2 separate regions of the Homo sapiens genome follow, and region 1 is linked to region 2. Evidence: fine-mapped expression QTL. Tissue or cell type: whole blood. Region 2 holds a variant in brackets; the other region holds the start of a gene. All regions are shown on one strand. Distances are between the middles of the regions.

Evidence for each region. PIP is the estimated chance that this variant, and not a neighbour inherited with it, causes the effect.
Region 1: it holds the start of PSAP, and the variant in region 2 is fine-mapped to the expression of PSAP in whole blood (TOPMed, PIP 0.94).

Annotation. Positions count from the first base shown.
Region 1 is chr10:71,846,300-71,855,730 of GRCh38, reverse strand. It overlaps PSAP (prosaposin), which reads left to right and starts at 4,480. Exons shown (of 14, transcript NM_002778.4): 1 at 4,480-4,549. The coding sequence starts at 4,510. RefSeq lists enhancers at 4,269-4,799, 4,800-5,330, 5,722-6,221.
Region 2 is chr10:71,882,258-71,893,606 of GRCh38, reverse strand. No RefSeq gene overlaps it. Among named protein-coding and RNA genes, the nearest start is that of LINC03139, 9.8 kb to the right of the region's middle. RefSeq lists a silencer at 4,440-4,529. The variant T/C (reference allele first, on the strand shown) is at 4,679.

The sequences.
Region 1 (9,431 bases), 37 kb after region 2:
TAGAGGGTCTGAAGCCAGAGGTCTCGAGTAGGAAGATGCTGGAGGGAGAGAACCTGTCATTGTTTGAGACAGGGTGAGGGGTCAAGGGAGGCTTCCAGGGCATTAGGGGGCTCCAGGGTTGCTGTTTAGGGCACTGGAGTGGAGCCTTGGGGCCAAGCAGGTGGGCTGGGCCTCAATGGTAGATATGTCTTATCTCCTTGGCTGTCTTGGCCGGAACTTTCAGTTGTAGAAAAAGTAACAGATGGAGGCCATCTGGGGCCACAGGGAACATCATTATTATTATTTGAGATGGGGTCTTGCTCCGTTGCCCCGGCTGACAAGCAGAGGTGCACCACTGCAGCCTCAACCTCTTGGGCTCAAGCCGTCCTCCCGTCCCATAGCCTCTGGAGTAGCTGGGATCACAGACCTGTGTCGCCACACCTGGCTAATTTTTGCATTTTTTTGTAAAGACAGGGTTTCGTCATGTTGCCCAGGATAGTCTCCAACTCCTGGGCTCAAGTGATCCTCTCACCTTGGCCTCCCAAAGTGCTGGGATTACAGGCATGAGCCACCATGCCCGGCTGGAAAATTATTAAAAGGGTCTGACAGGTGGGGATTTCAAGAGATCTCAGACATGAAAATTGGGGCCTCATGCAGAACTGAGATCCAGAACTGGAAGGCCATTGAGAAACCTTAAGCGTGGCTCACATTTCTAAGGAAAAATATCTTTTCAGTTCCTTGAAGACTTGAGCTCCCAGAGGGTGGTAGTGGAAGGGATTTTCTTTTCTCTTTTAAAATTTCCTATATTAATTTTGTTTTTTAAAAATTGCAATGTGGACATTTCCATGAGTGAAATAATGCAAGATGAGTTAATCCAAAGTCAGAATTTCCCCCCTACTTCCAATTCTCTGTTCCCCTCCTGGCTGAAATCCTGCACTTGTGGGAGGGAGAGGGACAGGGTGGAGGGCCATGGCTGCCCGTGCATCCTCTCTTTGGGGTGCGGCAGGCTGCAGGATCTTTTTTTGTTTGTTTTTGGGGTTTTTTTTTTTTTTGAGAGAGTCTCGCTCTGTCATCCAGGCTACAGTGCAATGGTGCGATCTCAGCTCACTGCAACCTCTGCCTCCTGGGTTCAAGCGATTCTCATACCTTAGCCTCCCAGGTAGCTAGGATTACAGGCGCATGCCAATACACCCAGCTAATTTTTGTATTTTTAGTAGAGATGGGGTTTCACCATGTTGGCCAGGCTGGTCTCGATCTCCTGACCTCAAGTGGTCTGCCCGCCTCGACCTCCCAAATTGCTGGGATTACAGGTGTGAGCCACTGCGCCCGATGGGATCCAGGATCTAGAAGCTCTCCACCAGTTCTGCCATCCTCTCTGGGAAGTCAGCAGCAGGGCTTACTAGCAGATGGGGTTTGGCCTCTCACTCTGCCCATGTTTCTTGGGACCCACGTTCCTGGAAGACTTGCTGCAGCCTAGCCCTTGCTCCCTCCTCCTCCTGTTTCAAAGCTGCTTCAGTACCGTTGCTCTGTCCAGCCAGTTTCCACAGTCATCTCTTCATTGTTCAGCACTTGGGATCTTTCCAGCTTCCATGTTTCTAAAGGGCCCTTCTGTGAACACTTCGGACAAAATATTCCTTCACTTCTGGAGTATTTCCCTGAGGGTACATAGCTAGGAAAGGCATAAGAGAGCCAGAGGGTTTGAGGAGCTTCACAGCTCTTGTTGCCTACACGCAGATGGTTCAGAAGGTTTTTTTTTTTTTTTTTTAAGAGGATTTAAGCGTCTACTGACAAGGTAAAAAAATTAATAATAATCTACTTATTGCTTTTATATTCTTTGTTAAAATTCTGTCCTCATGGGGTTCAGGACGAGGCGGATGAAGCAGCATATTACTGTTGAGTTACAGGTGAGGAGATGAAAGGCAGCAAAAGTTTCTCTCAAAAACACTGACATATTCCTCTAGGTATGAAGGAGGAATATTTAAAAAAAAAAAAAAGGAGGGGTGTGGTGGCTCACACCTGTAATCCCAGCACTTTGGGAGGCCAAGGCAGGCAGATCACTTCAGGTCAGAGTTTGAGACCAGCCTGGTCAACATGGTGAAATCCTGTCTCTACCAAAAAATACAAGAAAACTAGCCAGGTGTGGTGGCGTGCACCTGTTATCCCAGCTACTCTGGAGGCTGAGGCAGGAGAATTGCTTGAACCTGGGAGGTAGAAGTGGCAGTGAGCTGAGATCGCACCATTGCACTCCAGCCTGGGTGATAGAGTGAGCCTCCATCTCCAAACAAAAAACAAAACAAAACAAAACAAAACAAAACAAAAAAAACAAGTCCTGGTTCAGGCTCTGTTGTTAACCAGCCCTGAGATGTCAGTAGCTCTATAAGATGAGAGGGGATGATCTGAGGTCTCTGAGCGTCCTTTTGGCTTGGGGTCCTGTAACCTCTGCATGGAGCACTGGGATGCTTTGCTCCTCCATCTGCAAGGAGCTGAAGGATGGGGGATTTGTCCTAGAGCCCCAGCTCCCTTGCTTTTTTTGTTTGTTTTTTTTTTGAGACGGAGTTTCGCTGTTGTTGCCCAGGCTGGAGTGCAGTGGCACGATCTCGGCTCACTGCAAGCTCCGCCTCCCGGGTTCACGCCATTCTCCTGCCTCAGCCTCCCGAGTAGCTGGGACTACAGGCGCCCGCCACATCGTGCGGCTAATTTTTTGTATTTTTAGTAGAGACGGGGTTTCACCCTGTTAGCCAGGATGGTCTCGATCTCCTGACCTCGTGATCTGCCTGCCTCGGCCTCCCAAAGTGCTGGGATTACAGGCGTGAGCCACCGCGCCCGGCTAGCTCCCTTGCTTTTAACCAGTTGTTGTGTGGTCTGCCCCACGCTTCTGCCTGGCCTTGGGAAGCCCAAAGGTGGAGCAGCCACGAAGTCTCCATCTGGCCACTGAGGCCGACCTGTGAGGCGTCCAGTTGAGACCACATCTTGTCCCAACTCACTCAGCTGCCTCACATGGCCCACTGTGGTGCATGGGGCACACTTCCCCATCTGGCTCCCCAGAGGAAGTCAGAGCTGTGGTGGGGGCTGGGGGCACTTAGGGAGATTGCAGGGGAGCAGAACTGAAGGTTCTGAGGCCTTAGTCCCTGGGGTTGTTCTCCAGAGCGGATTGCAGATTGGAGGAAGTTGGAGGAACTGTAGGTTTGCCCTTCCTGGGTCAGGAAACCTGGCTTCGGGCCAGGTTCTATCTCTACCTGTTGTGTGACCTTGGATAAACGTCTTGCCCTCTCCTAGGCTCAATGTCCCTACAGGTAAATGACCTCTAAGTGCCTGCCCTAAGGGGCTAAGATTCCCCTCCTTTCCCTGCCTTGCGGTTGGCAGGTTCTTATCCTTCTGGAGAGGGTCATCATCATTCTCTGTTCAGGTCCTGGCAGGGGCAGCCACAGGCAGAGGGTCTTTGGGTCTTAATTTCTGAAGGCTTCCATGTCACATAAAACGTTGATTACATAAATTTGTTATGCTTTTCTCTTAAGCTGTCTCGTTACAGGAGTGTTGGTTGTGACTCTTATGATCTCTTATGATGGGTGAGGAATGGTATTACATCTTTAACGGTACCACAATGTGAGGCTTAAAAGTTTTTTGTTTTTTTTTTTTTGGTGATGGGAATCTCTCTCGCTCTGTGGTCCAGGCTGCAGTGCAGTAGTGCGATCTTGACTCACGGCAACCTCCACCTCCCGGGTTTAAGCAATTTTCCTGCCTCTGCCTCCTGAAATAGCTGGAACCACAGGCGAGCGCCACCACGCCTGACTAATTTTTGTATTTTTAGTAGAGACAGGGTTTCACCATATTGGCCAGGCTGGTCTTGAACTCCTGACCTCATGATCCGCCCGCCTCGGCCTCCCAAAGTGTTAGGATTACAGGAGTGAGCCAGCATGCCCAGCCCAGACTTGCCTTTGACCAGGTGCCACCACCTGCCCCCACGTGCCCCTGGCCAGGACTGAGCCCTGTACCCTGTTACACGACTACTTATTCTATGTGAAACCCCAAGCTATTCTATGTGAAACCCGCTACTACAATGGGCTAATTTTTTTGTATTTTTTTTTTTGTAGAGATGGGGTTTCACCACGTTGCCCAGGCTAGTCTTGAACCCTCCGCCCGCCTCGGCCTCCCAAGTGTTGGGATTACAGGCGTCAGCCACCGCGGCCGGCCAACAATGTGGAGATTTAAAAGGTATTTTACATATATAATCTCTGACCTATTCAATTAGTAGGGCTTTTCTTTTATGACCTTTCCCTTCCCTTTCTCCAAGTTCTTCCTCACTCCTCCCCATAGCCCTTCCTTTCGCCCCTCCCATTGCCCCCTCCTATTGGCCTCCCCTTCGCGCAGGCGCCCTCAGAGGCGCTGAGTCAGGGCGCTGTTGAGCTCGGGCAGGCCCGGATGGGGCGGGGTTAGCGCCTGCGCTCTGGACGGCTTTGGGGCAGGGCAGATTTATATCTGCGGGGGATCAGCTGACGCTCCGCATTGCAGACTGCGGAGTCAGACGGCGCTATGTACGCCCTCTTCCTCCTGGCCAGCCTCCTGGGCGCGGGTAAGCCCTGGGACCCTCATCCTGGGGAGGAGGTGCCTCGCAGCGTCCATCTGCCCCAGAATGGGCTGTGCCGGGCCTGGCCCCTCTGCTCCCCCTGCCCTAGTTGGCAAGGGGGCGCGCGCACTGCGCAGGCGCGTTCGCTGGCTTTCTCTGGCTTTCTCTGGGCGGCTGGGGGCTGCGGGGGGCGGGCTGCGAAAATGCCCCCGGGAGGACGGCCCAGGCCCTGGGCAGCATCTCCTTCGGGGCTCGAGTGGGTTCCTGCGCGGCTGGGGCCCCGAGGCCTTCCCTCAGGCTGCGCTTCCCACTGTGGGGGTGGGTGAGTCTTGTAGGGTGACCCCTTGGGCAGCTGTGTTGTGCCTGTGCTGGGCGCACGTGATCGAGGTGGGCTGGAGCCCCGTCCCGCAGGACACTTTGGCCGTTGGCTTCAGTTGCCTGTTTGTAAGGGTAGCGAAGCTGCAGGAAGCACATGTGTATCATCTATATTGACGTTTGCATATGTATTTACTCTGGATTCTAGGTGTTGACAAAACGAGTCAAACTCTGTAAAAATATTTTGAGATTTATTCTGAGGCAAATATGAGTGACCATGGCCCGTGACACAGCCCTCAGGAGGTCCTGAGAACATGTGCCTAAGGTGGTTGGGATACAGCTGGGTTTTACATATTTTCGGGAGGCACGAGACATCAATCAAATACATTTAAGAAATACGTTGGTTTGGTTCAGAAGGGCGAAACAACTCAAAGCGGCGGGGGGCTTCCAGGCCATAGGTAAATTTAAACATTTTCTAGTTGATAATTGGTTGAGTTTATCTGAAAACCTAGAATCAATAGAAAGAAAGTATTCAAGTTAAGATAAAGGATTGTGGAGACCAAGTTTTATTGTGCAGAGGAAGCTCTCAGGTAGCCGACTAAGAGAGCGAGCACGTTGTAAAATATTTCTATGGAAATGAAAGGGTGACTGGCTCTTAGTTGATTATCTCCTGGATCTGGAGAGGAAGGAAGGAAAACATAGGGGAAAGGGGATTCTCTATAGAATGTGGATTTTTCCCACAAGAGACTTTGCAGGGCAATTTCAAGGTATGGCAAGGAAATATATTTTGGGGTTAGATATTTTGATTTTTTTTTCCTTGTCTTATAAAATGTTATGCCAGAGTCAGATTGGAAAGTAAGTCACGATATATGGGGTCAAATAAAACCCATCTGATGAGAGTTTATGGTTTGTAGGGTATGATTCCTACACCCCTTAGATAGGAATTTGGGCAAGCTAAAAAAAATCGGAGCTTAATTCTCATAGGTATTGAAGGCGATATAGGGTTTTCTGGTCCAGTTATTTTGCCATGGGGTCCTCATTTCACTTGCTTTGAAATGTCTTGCATCTGGGTGCGGTGGCTTATGCCTGTAATCCCAGCACATTGGGACACCGAGGTGGGAGGATCGCTTGAGCCTAGGAGTTGGAGACCAGCCTGGGCAACATAGCAAGACCCCACCTGTGAAAAAAAGAAAAAGAGAAAAGAAAGTCTTGCACGCTATTGGCCGTTTTTTTTTTGTTTGTTTGTTTTGTTTGTTTGTTTGTTTTTTGAGACGGAGTTTCGCTGTTGTTGCCCAGGCCGGAGTGGTGCAATGGCGTAGTCTCGGCTAACTGCAACCTCCGCCTTCCGGGTTCAAGCCATTCTCCCGCCTCAGCCTCCCAAAGTTCTGGGATTACAGGCGTGAGACACCGCACCCAGCCCCCACCACAATGTCTGTTTTTTAGTAACTATATGTAGTTTAAGGGCTGGCTGCCATTTTTAACCTAGCTACCCAAATTTTAATAAAAAGTAACAAAGTGGATGACAGGGTTGATGCAAAACCGAAGAAATGAGTTAGCTTTCAGCAGCTCTCAAGAATGTATCTTGACCCTATACGAAGCTCTTAAATTTGTTTTACTTGTACACAATGAAAGATGATCTGCTTATAAAAAAATCATTTTGATTTTATACTCAAGCTTATACTGCAGTTATTCCATGGTCTGTATAATAAACTAATGCTGGTCTCTAAATTTTTTATACTGATTCAGGGCAATTTTTTTTCTTTCTTTTTACATTATCCATTGTTCTTGTTGACGTTGAGTCACTCCTCACAAGACCCTTAAGAGTTCTGATTCATTCACATCACCCAAAAGGGACTCAATCGTGTCTCGGGAAATATAAAATCCACCTCTGGTATATATGGGCTTATGGTTAACCACAATATTTAGTTAACCAAGGGACCCTCTTCCGTGAACACTCGGGTAAATGGGAGGTATTGTAATGGCCTTGGTTTAACTTTGCTGTCCTACCTTTAGGATTAGGCCAAAGTCAGTGCTGATAACAGTGTTTGAATGCTCCCTGGCCTTCACAGCTCTGGCCCCTTTGTGATATTGTGAAAATGTTACTCCTAAAATTTCTAGACATGATAATGAGTTTTGTTAGTGAAAGTGCCTGGTGACTGCAGCCATTGTCTGCTGCCCGAGAGGCACTTAGAACTTTCTTCGTGACACTGTCGTAGTACAGAATGCCACCCTGAATCGGGATGGGCTTTGTATTTTGTGTTTCAGTGATGTCCTGGTGGTAGAGACACTTGCTTTTGAGTTACTTTTCTGCCCATCCAGCTGCCCCTCCTTTTTCCCCACCTAAAAGCGAAAGCAAAGCCATGGCACCATGAGAGAATTGGAGAGCATGTAATCTGACCCCTTTGTAAGGAATGAAGACCTGGAGGTGCCCAGAGGTGACTCTCCCAAATCATAGACCATTTACTGGGGATGCCAGGACCAGAACCCAAGACTCCACAGTGCTCGCTTTTTCCATATCCCTCTGTCCACATGGACCTCTTAACTTTTAAAAACTTAGTGTAAGTTACATACGTGGACGATTAAGTAGACAACTTGATGAATTACCACAAAGTGAGCAGCCCCCGAGGTTGGGGAGCAGTGCAGTAGCATCCAGAGGCCCCTGTTCACCCATTCACTGCCCTGTCCCACTTGCCCCGAAGGAAACATTGTTAACCTTTGAACACCATAGATGTGAAGGCTGCAGTTTCGATCTTTTACAAATGGGATCATGGAGGGTATTGCTGTTAGGTGAGTCCTCTGGTGGAAAAAGGAGCGTGTTCATCAGCTAGGTGTAAGGCATGAGGGATGGTGCCTGGGATGTGGCAGGTGCTCCCTGAAGCTTAGATGCCCTGATAGCTGTCAGCTGTGTGGTGGCTAGCCTGCTGAATGTTGTCTACACCACGCTAAGACAGTTATGTTTTCTGGGGATGCTAGAAGGTGTTATATATATTCTTTCAATAACATGTGAATTTATAGCCTGGCCTGCTGAATATCAGTAGGAACTTCAGGTCTTGGCCTGTCAGGGATTTTGGATAAATCTCCTGTTTATTAATAGTAAATCAGTTTTATTCTGTGAAAATAAGAGTATAATTCCTGAAGAAAGAAGGGTTTGTTTTAACAAATCAGTGATTTGTCAAGTCCTTGAAGTACATTTGACAGGTTGTTTTGTTTCTTTTTTTTTTTTTTGGAGCAGAAAGTTTAATAGGCAGAAGAAAGGAGAAAGGAGAGCAGCTCTCTCTTGTGAGAGAGAGGCATCCGAAAGGGAGAAGCCTGACAGGTTGTTATTGAGATGGGAGTCTTGCTCTGTCCCCAGGCTGGTGTGCAGTGGCGCGATCTCGGCTCACTGCCACTTCCGCCTTCCGGGTTCAAGCGATTTTCCCACCTCTGCCTCCCGAGTAGCTAGGATTATAGGTGCCCACCACCATGCCTATAAAATCCACCTCTGGTATATATGGGCTTATGGTTAACCACAATATTTAGTTGACCAAAGGACCCTCTTCCCTGAACACTCGGGTAAATGGGAGGTAATTTTTTGTATTTTAGTAGAGATGGGGTTTCACCATGTTGGCCAGGCTGGTCTTGAACTCCTGACCTCAAGTAATCCGCCTGCCTCGGCCTCCCAAAGTGCTGGGATTACAGGTGTGAGCCACCGCACCCGGCCCTGACAGGTTGTTTTGAGAACAAACTATGAGAGTTGAAGTGTGTTGGATTGATTGGTGTGGCATTTTGTAGATGAGGGAAAGGAGAACTTGGTCTTCCATTTTCTTGGTGAGTGAGACCATGGGATGTCCAGGCAGCTGTGGGGAAGTGGAAGGGTAGGGCGGGGTGTTGCTGGCTGGGAACAGCACCTAATGAGGCATGCTTAGGAAGTTCTCAAGGCCAAGACCAAAGCCACTTAGACAGGTGTGCATGGCAGCTTTGGAGGCAGCTTCTAGCAGAGATTCTAGGTTACTGGCTACCAGGCTGTAAGCCTTGCTTTCTGGCTCCTTTTTGGTTCTGCCACCAGGAAGGAGGGTCTGGATATTCTTCAGATCAATGAAAGAGAGTACTAATTAGAATTACATTGCCCTGCTTGCCTTTTTTTTTTTTTTTTTTTTTTTTTGAGACAGGGTCTTACTCTGTTGCCCAGGCTGGAGTGCAGTGGCACCATCTCAGCTCACTGCAACCTCCACCTCCCGGGTTTAAGTGATTCTCATACCTCAGCCTCCCAGGTAGCTGATAGCTGGGATTGCAGGCACCTGCCACCATGCCTGGCTAATTTTTGTATTTTTAGTAGAGAAAGGGTTTTGCCATGTTAGCCAGGCTGGTCTCAAACTCCTGACCTCAAGTGATCTGTCTGCCTCGGCCTCCCAAAGTGTTGGGATTACAGGCGTGAGTCGCCGCACCTGGCTTTTTTTTTTTTTTTTTTAAGGGCTTTAAAACAATGATGATAAATACAGTGATTGGGATGAAGATTTTGGCTGTTGCAAAAGTACTAATTGCTTTATTTTTTATTACATGAAGTTCCAAAAAAATAACTTTGTGGCATTTGTAA
Region 2 (11,349 bases):
GTGGGCAGCTGCTCACATTGCATGGGAAGCATCACAGATACCCAGCCACCAACGCCGATGGTGGAGGATGCTGTTTTGGTGACCTGAACCTGGGAGAGAAGCCGCTATCAGTGCTGTGATTCTCTGAAATGGTTAAACTCTTGGCGAAGTTCCCTACAAAACAAAGTCCAATCTTCCATTCATTTGTGTTCTCAGAGTATGTTTTAAAATATGCAAAAAGGCTGGGTGCAGTGGCTCACACCTGTAATCTCAGCACTTTGGGAGGTCGAGCCAGGTGGATAACCTGAGGTCAGGAATTCAAGACCAGACTGGGCAACATGGTGAAACCCCGCCTGTACTGAATATACAAAAATTAGCTGGGCATGGTGGTGCACGCCTGTAGTTCCAGCTACTCGGGAGGCTGAGGCACGAGAATCACTTGAACCCTGGAAGAGAAGGTTGCAGCGAGCCGAGATTGTGCCACTGCACTCCAGCCTGGCAACAAAGTGGGACTCTGTCTCAAAAATAAAAAATAGGCTGGGTGCCTGTAATCTCAGCACTTTGGGAGGCCGAGGTGGGTGGATCACCTGAGGTCAGGAGTTCAAGACCAGCCTGACCAACATGGTGAAACCCCATCTCTACTGGAAATACAAAATTAGTCAGGCGTGGTGGCGCATGCCTGTAATCCCAGCTACTTGGAAGGCTGAGGCAGGAGAATCGCTTGAACCCGGGAGGCGGAGTTTGCAGTGAGCCGAGATTGTGCAATTGCACTCCAGCCTGGGTAACAAGAGCAAAACTCCGTCTCAAAAAATACAATAAAATAAATAAAAAATAAAATAAAATAAAATATTCAAAAATACCTCATGTTTAGGTGTGAAATGGAGTTTGGTTTTTCAGTGACACGAATATGTGAAAGTGTCTTGTCTCACCCCCAGCCCTCAGCTAGGGTTGCCCCAAAAGTGGTGGCAGAGGAGTTCCCACAAGGGAGTGCCTGAATCATCCTGAAGGGGGGCCAGCTGGGATTCCAAAGAGAGAAGCACGAAGCGCCGGGGTGATGAGTCCAGGCTTTTATTAGGGGAGCTCACTTCCACAGGGCCGTGCACATCCTCAGGCAGCCAGGAGAGAAAGGGAGGTCCACCTAGGTGTGTCCACAGCCATGAGGTCAGGGTGTGGAATTTTTCTGAGGCTTTAAGGAATTGGGCTCAAGCCTGGGGCCAGTTTTGTTCAGGGTTTTGGGCAATAACCTAGACTTCTTTATCAGTGCCTGGGAATGTTCGAGGCCCTGGTTTGGGTTCAAGCCTGCTGGGAAGCCCTGCAGCTGGTTGGGTCATGAAACAGTCAAGGCACTCTAGATTTTCGGTCAGGACACGGAAAGAAAGTGGGACAAACTAGGGGACGCTACAGAAGGGACATTTGAAAATCAGAATACTTTGGACAGTTTTTTTGTTGTTGTTGTTCCAAAGGGCGGCTCTGAGCATTGCAGGATGTTCGGCCGTCCTGGTCTCTGGCCCAAACACCAGCAGTGCCTCCCACATCCCTGCAACAACCCAAACCGTCCCTATGAGTACTCAAAACGCCACGAGGCTCCAGCTCTGCCTGCTGGAGCCCCAAGGATCTAACCCCTCTGGAGCCAAGGACATGTTGCATGCCAGGGATCCCTTACTGGGTGACTGAAGCAGGGTTAGGGTCAGGGGAGGGACCCCAGTGAGCAGTTGATGAGCTCAGGTCGGCCATCTTGTGTGGTGCTGCTGGGAGGGTACAGGCCCAGAGCTGGGCACTTGCCGGGGAGACCAGATGTGTGTGCTGAAAAGTATCTGCATGATCTTGTCTTCAAGGAGCTGGTGAATGTCAGGCCTGGAAGGAGTTGAACAGCCAGGGAGACAGCAGGGCATGTGGCGTTTCCAGACCCTAAACCTGCTGTCAGCCTTGGGATGAGACCTCCCCAGGTGCAGCCTCACCCCTCCAGGGCCTGCATGCTGCGTGCTCTGCTTTTCCTTGGGCCTTCACATATGCCGCATCCTCAGCCTGCGGCACTCTCGCCGACCTGCTGTGTGTGCCTGGTGGACTTCCCTCCGCTTCTCACTTCAGATACTGCCTCCTCCAGGAAGCTCTCTCTGACCCCCTCAGTCTGAGCTGAGTGGCCTTGCAGGCCCTGTACTCACCCACTGAAGCATTTACCCCTCTCTATCCCTATTTGTGGGTCTCTCTCCCTAGTAGAGCTGGGAGTCCACAGAGGGCTCTAATTCTCTCTTGAATTCCCAGGCCTAACATAGGGCTGGCAACCATGGTCAGTAATATCTGTGGGCTGAAGGAGAAGGCAGAAACATAGAGTGGAAGGCAGGGAGGTGTAGGGAGACAGAGTTTGAGGGCAGGAAGGTTTGAAGGGTCAGAGGAGGAGGCGCCTGTGGAGGGTTGCAAAGACAAGAACGGTGCCAAGCCATGGCACGGAGGGAGGGACAAGGGCTGAAGGGAGAGACGCAGAATTCATGGTAGGGCCGGGCCCCAGGGACTCTAGGACAATGGCCCATGCCACTAGCCTGAGGAGTGTGCCCTCCGAGTGAGGACAAAACAAGAAACCATTACCGCGGAAGTGCACAGGCCCTAAAATGTCTAGAGTGCTGAGTTCACAGGACCCTTAAAGATCACAAATCTGAGCCCGGTGTGGTAGCTCACGCCTGTATTCCCAGCACTTTGAGAGGCCAAGGCAGGTGAATCACCTGAGGTCAGGAGTTTGAGACCAGCCTGACCAATATGGTGAAACCTCATCTCTACTAAAATTACAAAAATCAGCTGGATGTGGTGGCGTGCACCTGTAGTCCCAGCTACTTGGGAGGCTGAGGCAGGATAATTGCTTGAACCCAGGAGGCAGAGGTTGCAGTGAGCCGAGATTGCACTACTGTACTCCAGCCTGGGCGACAGAGAAAACAAACAAACAAACAAACAAAAAACAAACCACTAGTCTGATTGACCATTGTATAGATGAGGAAAACCAAGGCCGAGTCCAATGTGACATTTCTGGGGTCAAGGCCAGTCTGCCCCTGGAGAATTTCTTGTCCATAGAGGCTTAGGGTTTCTTATGGCAAAATACTTCCCCTACTGCACTCACTTGCACTCCAATTCCCGCTACTATGCATTTCTTCAGCTTAAGGCACCTAAAGCAGAAATGTCAGTTTCAGATCCCACAGGGCTCCCATGGCTGGGTGTGGACACTTCCCATGGCTCAGTGGAGCATGCATGACCCTGCAAGAACAGGTCAAACAGGCCGTGTGATCCCTTGATCTGAACTGTTGGCTACTAACTGAAATTATGTTTAAAAACCAGACATGATGCCTTTAAGACTGTGCAAGTCAAGCAGATCCTTTAGGGGACAGACTCAGTGGCCAACTGTCTGGGAGGCCCAGTTGGGACTTCCCATGATTTTGGAAATGGACTTCCTCATTATTTTGGAAATCCCCCAGAAGGGTATCCTTGGAGCCTCTTAGTCACCGATACCAACGGTACCATACTCAGAGATGTTTTCCAAAAGGAGGCTCAAATTGGGAGGGCTTTGGGGGGCTGGAGGATGGTAGGGAGGGAGGAGGGGAGCAGAGGGCAGAGGGGAAGCTGGCCTGTACAGGATTGAAAAAAAGAGAGAAGGAAAGTTGCTTCCTTCTAATGTGCTCATTTATGCCATTCATACAAAATTCCTGAGTTTGTTTAACTCCTTCATTTTATTTTTATTTTTTAATCACTTTTTTTTTTAAAGACAGGGTCTTGCTCTGTTGCCCAGGCTGGGGTGCAGTGGCAAGATCTCCGCTCACTCTAACCTCTGCCCCCCGGGCTCAAACGATCCTCCTGCCTCAGCCTGCAGGTAGCTGGAACTACAGGTGCCACCACACTGGGCTCACCTCCTTCATTTTAGAGCTGAGGAAATGGAAGTCCAATAAAAGAGTGACTTGCCCAAAGAACCAGCAGGTGGTGGCAGGGCTACCCTGTGGTAGGGGTTGGGGGCAGAGGTAGAATCCAGGTCTCCAGGCTCTTTCCTCTCTCAGGAAGAAGGTGAGGGTGAGTGTGCCCGGCGCTGGCCTCAGCACCACACAGCTTATCTCCATTTTACAGGGAGAGGGAAGAACTCTTACAAGGTTCCACAAGCAGCCGGTATCGGCATGGATGAGACCCCCTCAGGTTGGATAAGTTCGCAGGAGAGACAATTTCCCATGGGCTGGGAGAGACGGTTGTTTCTTGGAAGAGATGGCCCCAAAGGGTGGACAGGAAGGGATAGAGAGAGAGAAACAGAGAGAGGAGAGGGAGAGAGAGAGAGAGAGAGGACACACAGAGAGAGTTAAAGATCAATAAACAGCGGGGAAAGGTGTGAAGTGACAACTGAGCCCTTCCACAGACTCTCTCCCTAGTTCGACTGCCCCCCACCCCCACCCCCAAGGGACCCACTCGACGCTGCCCGCGCATGCCCCAACCCGTTCGTGCCCCCGCCTGGCCGCGTGCAGTCTCGCGGATGCGTCAGGCCACGAGTGCGCCACTGCTCGCCCCGCGCTGCGTCCCAGCAGACCTGCGCGCCTCTCCTCTGCCCCGGTCTGCGCCCTCAACCCCGCGCTTCCGCTATATTCCGGAGGAATCTGAAATCAGATTCAGATGTGAAGCGCGGTTTCGGATCCTCTTTCGCTTCTCTATCTCGAGAAACTTGAAACTGCGTCCTCTAGGA[T/C]TGCATCAAACTGCATCTTGAGCGTGGAGGAGGACTGCTGAGCCCCACGGGTTCGCCGGGCTGGAGAGGTCTTGCGCAACCTGAGGGTTGGGGAGAGAGGGGTGTTAGCGGAGGGAATGGGCCCTGACGGCCCTAGAAGCTTCCCCGAGCGCCTCCCACCTCCAGCGGACTTGCTGTTAAAAACGCAATTAATGCGTCCTGTGAGTCAGAATAAGGATGACTACTTATGGAAGAGGAAGGAGTGACTGGGGTGGGGCGCGTGGAGAGACTTCTGCTGTGGCTGGCAAAGTTCTTTTTCTTGGTCTCGGAGGCAGTTCACTTTGTAGTAATTAGTTAAGCCGTACATCAGAACCATTGGATTCTGTATCCGGGTTTTATTTTTACAATAAAAATACGTTTAAAATAATCAGTTACAGTTATAAAACTGAAATTCTTCCCATTCTAATTTTCTTTCTCTTTTTCTTCCTTCTTTCTTTCTCTCCTCCTCCTCCTTTTTCTTCTTTTGTTGTTGTTGTTTTGTTTTTTATTTTTTATTTATTTATTTGAGACAAGAGTTTTGCTGTTGCCCACGCTGGAACACAGTGGCACGATCTGGCTCACTGCAGCCTTGACCTCCTGGGCTCAAGCGATCCTCCCTCCTCAGCTTCCCGAATAGCTAGGATCATAGGCGTGGACCATCACACCCGGCTAATATTTTTTATTATTTATGTAGAGACAGGGTCTCGCCATGTTGCCCAGGCTGGTCCTGAACTACTGGGCTCAAACGATCCTCCTACCTCAGTCTCCTAAAGGGTTGAGATTACACGTGTGAGCCACTTTGCCCGCCTGAGCAGCTTTTTAAGTCAGGCATTGAGTCAGTATCTCTGGGGACTGAGAAGAGGTATATATTTTTAAAGTTCCTCCAGTTTTTCAAAAGGGCAGCCAGGATTGAGAAACACTGGGCTATCATGGTGGGATTCCATATTAAGATTTTGAAAGCCACAGGCCTTGAAGAAGGAAGCAGAGGCTCCCAGAAGCCCAGGTGGATGCTCTGCCTGAGCCCTCCCAGCAGGCGAGGTGCAAAGCTGGCCTGGAGCAGGAACTCCCACTGCCCACGCCAGGGCTCTGCCCTCAGACCACCCTGAGTGTGCCTCCTTCATGCAAATTTCTCTGTCTTCAGATTGGAGATCATGGGGTAAAGATATATGTATATGTGTGTGTGAGAGTATATATATATATGATATATATATATATATGATATATATGATATATATATATAAAAGATATATATAAGGTGTATATATATAAAAGATATATATAAGGTATATGTATATATAAAAGTATATATATATTTTTTTTAAATTAAGATTTAGGCCAGGCATGGTGGCTCATGCTTGTAATCCCAGCACTTTGGGAGGCTGAGGCAGGTGGATCTCCTGATGTCAGGAGTTCGAGACCAGCCTGGCCAACATGGTGAAACCCCGTCTCTACTAAAAATACAAAAATTAGCTGGGCATGGTGGCACAAGCCTGTAATCCCAGCTATTCGAGAGGCCGAGGTGGGAGAATTTCTTGAAACTGGGAGGCAGGCGGAGGTTGCAGTGAGCTGAGATTGTGCCACTGCACTCCAGCCTGGGCAACAGAGTGAGACTCTTGTCTCAAAAAAAACAAAAACAAAAACAAAAACTAAGATTTATATTACTGTTGCAATTATTAAGGCAATGCAGTTCTAATAAATAACCATCCAAAGATGTACATAAATGCAATTCACAAAATAAGAAATCCACATAGGCTGTAATCATGGAAAAGGAGTCTCACCAAGTTTTAAAGAGACACAAATTAAACCAACAATGAAACATTTTCTCACCTATACCATTGGCAAAGATAAAATGCTAATGCTGCATAAATATGGGGAAATGAGTACTACCTTCAAATTCATACCTGTACAATCTTCTAAAAGGAATGTATTAATGTGGAGGAAAAGCATTAAACATGCCTTCTGTTTGCTCCAGCAATTACACTTCTAGGAAAAACACATGTGCCGAGGTATATGTTCATTGCAGAGTCATATGTCATGATTAAAGTAATTGGAAACAGCACAAAAATCCAGAGATAAGAGATTTGTTACCAAAAAAAAATTCTGCATCCTACAGTGGAAATTAAGCAGCCATCAAATAGAATGAAGTCTTTAAGTTAAAAAAAAAGAAAAAAGAAAGAAAAGAAAAAAGGGCTGGGCGCAGTGGCTCACACCTGTAATCCCAGCACTTTGGGAGGCCAAGGTGGGCGGATCACCTGAGGTCGGGAGTTCGAGACCAGTCTGACCAGCATGGAGAAACCCTGTCTCTACTAAAAATACAAAAAAATTGGCCGGGCGTGGTGGCTCATGCCTGTAATCCCAGCTACTCGGAAGGCTGAGGCAGGAGAATCGCTTGAACCTGGGAGTAGAGGTTATGGTGAGCCGAGATTGGGCCATTGCACTCCAGCCTGGGCAACAGGAGCAAAACTCCATCTCAATAAATAAATAAATAAATAAATAAATAAATAAATAAATAAATAAAAATAAAGGGAGGAAGAAGGAAGGAAAGGAAAGGAAAGGAAGAGGCAGCCAGGCACGGTGGCTCACACCTGTAATCTCAGCAATTTGGGAGGCCAAGGCGGGTGGATTGTGTGAGCCCAGGAGTTCAAGACCAGCCTGGGCAACATGGTGAAATCCGATGTCTACAAAATATACAAAAATTAGCCAGGCCTGGTGGTACATGCCTATATTCCCAGCTACTTGGGAAGCTGAGGTGAGGATGACTTGAGCCCGGGGAGGTCAAGGTTGCAGTAAGCTGTGTTCACGCTATTGCAGTCCAGCCTGGGTGACAGAATGAGAGCTTATCTCAAAAAAAACAAACAAACAAACAAAAAAAACAGAGATTGAGTCTGGCCAGGTGCAATGGCTCACGCCTGTAATTCCAGCACTTTGGAAGCCTGAGGTAGGAGGCTTGCTTGAGGTCAGGAGTTTGAGACCAGCCCGGCCAACATAGTGAAACCCCATCTCTAAAAAAAAAGGTTTTTTTAAATAAAGAAAAAATGTTAAATATAAAGGGGATGAGGCTGATTGATCTATATGAATTGATGTGGAGAAATGGATATATCATGTTACATGAAAAAATAAGTTCCAAAACAGTAGTTCTATATACACACATGTATATATGTGTATGTATTTGTGCATACATGCATGTCCATGTGTGTATATATATATACACACAGGTATGTGTATATGTGCATAAGTGCATGTATAGATACGGATGTGTATATGTAGTATGTATGTGTATATGTATGTATGCGTGTTGTAACCCAGAAAAGTGTCTGAGGCAAGTCTCCATCAATATTTAGAGGTCTATTTTGACAAGACTGAGGACGTGCCCCAAAAAAGAGGCATATGCCACAGTGGGATCTGTGGCCGCATAATTTTTTCAGAGAAGATTTTGAGGGCTTCAGTATTAGAAGGAGAAAGAGCAGGCAGGAGGGAAAGTGGGGAAGGAAAAAAAAAGGAGGGTAGGCAGTGAGATAAGGGGGCACATTTCTGTGAGGCTTTGATTAGTGCTCACCAAATCCACGTGTTACCTATGAAAGGAGAGGGTGGAGGCACAGGCAATTATGCCTCTGTCGCCGGCTCAGTAAATCTGCATTTGTCTCTGGGTGGCTGGAGGGGTGATTTCTAGTCTTGTCTTTGTCTTATACCTGTGAAGATAAGGTGTTAATGTACATGGTCAGGGTGAGGGAAGCCACCAGCGGAGACACGGTCTTCTATTTTGTAGCTATCTGCTTAGAAACAAAAAGAAAGGCAGTTTGACCAGGTGTGGTGGCTCACGCCTGTAATCCCAGCGTTTTGGGAGGCCGAGGCAGGTGGATCACCTGAGGTCAGGAGTTCGAAACCAGCCTGCCCAACATGGTGAAACCCCATTTCTACTAAAAATAAGAAAATTAGCCAGGCATAGTGGTGGGCACCTATAATACCAGCTACTCAGGAGGCTGAGGCAGGAGAATCGCTTGAACCCAGGAGGCAGAGGTTGCATTGAGCTGACATTGTGCCACTGCACTCTAGCCTGGGCAACAGAGTGAGAATCTGTCTCAAAAGAAAAAAAAAAGAAAGAAAGAAAGAAAAAAAGAAAGGGCAGCTTTTGGTGTGACTCAGTTTCCAAGCTTAACTTTTCCCTTTGGCATAGTGAGTTTGGGGTCCTGAGATTCTATTTTCCCTTCACTCTGTGTACGTGTATATGTGGGTGTCCATGTGTATATGTGTATATAGGTACAGGAATGTGACCACTTACCTCACTGCCTGTGTTTTATGTGTGTGTGCATGACTAAGAAAATATTAACTATTAACACTGGTTATCTCTGGGCAGTGGAATTACAGGGGTTCTTTCACTTTTTACTCTCATACATATCTATATTGTTTGTATTTTTATTTTTTTACCAGCAGAATGTACTGTTTTTTGTTTTTGTTTTTGTTTTTGTTTTTTGAGACAAGGTCTTGTTCTATCGCCCAGGCTGGAGTGCAGTAGCACGATCTGGGCTCACTGCAACCTCTGACTCCCAGGTTCAAGCGATTCTCATGCCTCAGCCTCCCAAGTAGCTGGGATTACAGGCATATGCCACCACAGCCTGGCTAATTTTTGTATTTTTAGTAGAGACGGGGTTTCACCATGTTGGTCAGGCTGGTCTTGAACTCCTGACCTCAATTGATCCACCGGCCTCGGGCTCCCAAAGTGCCACCATGCCTGGCCATACTGATTACTGATTTTATAATCAGAAAAGAAGTGTAAAATATTTTTCATTTTTAAAGAAAAAAGCAGGCCGGGTGCAGTGGCTCACACCTGCAATCCCAGCACTTTGGGAGGCAGAGGGGGGCGGATTACCTGAGGTCAGGAGTTCAGGTGGCTAACATAGTGAAACCCTGTTTTTACTAAAAATACAAAAAATTAGCCAGGTGTGGTGGTGCGCGCCTGTAATCCCAGTTACTTGGGAGGCTGAGGCAGGAGAATCACTTGAACCCGGGAAGCAGAGGTTGCAGTGAGCTGAGATTGCATCATTGCACCCAGCTTGGGCAACAAGAGTGAAACCCTGTCTGGAAAAAAAACAAGCAATACATATATATTAAAGAAAATGCCAACAAGAAGAATAAAAAACCCAAGTTCCCCAAGTTCTCCCCAGTTCCATCCCACAAAAGCCACTGCAGTACCGTTTTGGCCCATTTGCTTCCTATCTTTCTCCTATGCCTTTTTAAAATAGCTGTTGTTATTCAGCATAAATTATTTCACATCCTGTTTTTCTACACCTGACTTCTTGATGTTCATATTTTTCTCCGTTATGAAAAAGCCCTCACAAATGGCCCTCTGATTGGGCCTATAACATGTTGTGACTGTCTTGATTTTCTTAACAGCTTTCTTATTGTCAGACATTTGGCTCATCTCCAGTCTTTTACCATTGAACTAATGCCCTGATCAGCATCTCTGTATGAGTGTTTTCCTGGCCATAGGCCTTAGGACGCATTCCCAGCTGTTAAATTACTGGGCTAACGGAAAGGAACACATTTGAGTCCCTGACTCCTCATTGCCAAATTGCATTCTGCGCAGGTGGAGCCGTGGTGCCCCTCGAAAGATAATTTTTCTTTCGTTTTCTAGTAAGTCCAGTTGCTTTTCTGAATCTTCTTCCTGCAAACAGACTCAGTTTTCCCTGCTTCTGTCCTCCTTCCCCGTGGTTTAATGGACAGAGAAGGTCCTGTGGGTTCAACTCATAGCTGGGTCTAAGGCTGGCTATGTAGCTTTGGGAAAATCACTTGCCCTCCCTGGGCCTCCTCCATGTCTCTCCTCTAGCTCTTGCCTTCCTTCCCACGTGGCTTGAAAGATAATGTGCCTGACTTTGCCTTCCAGAGGTCAGATGGGGTTGGATAGTACTGTTATCTTTCTTCTCCAGGATAGCAGCAAACCTTTCCCTCCAAGTTTTCCTCCAGAGATCTGGCAAGAAATGTTCCCTTCGTTTGTAAGGAAGGCCTTCTGGTTTCCTACCTGGCACCATGGAGTGGAAAGGTGACCTTTCCTAGAACATCTCCCCAAGGCCAGCCTTCTCCCAAGAGAAAGAAAACAGGGCCTGTTGGCTCACGGTTCGTTCTGTTTTCCCTTCCTTGAAAATCAGGGTAGAGAAGCTCCAAGTAACTTTCCTCCTCCTTGGCCTGCCCAGAGGCCAAACAAGATTGTTACTGAAGACTCAGGGAGGCTGGGCATGATGGCTCACACCTGTAATCCCAGCACTTTGAGAGGCTGAGGTGAGTGGATCACAAGGTCAGGAGTTCAAGACCAGCCTGGCCAACGTGGTGAAACCCCGTCTCTACTAAAAATACAAAAATTAGCCAGGAATGGTGGCAGCCACCTGTAATCCCAGCTGCTTGGGAGGCTGAGGCAGAAAATTGCTTGAACCCAGAGGCGGAGGTTGCAGTGAGCTCAGATCGTGCCACTGCACTCCAGTCTAAAAAAAAAAAAAAAATTGCCGGGCATGGTACTGGGTGCCTGTAATCCCAGCTACTCAGGGGGCTGAGACTGGAGAATCGTTTGAACCCAGGAGGCAGAGGTTGCAGTGAGCCGAGATTGCACCTGGGTGACAGAGTGAGACTCTATCTCAAAAAAAAAGACTCAGGGAAACAGCACT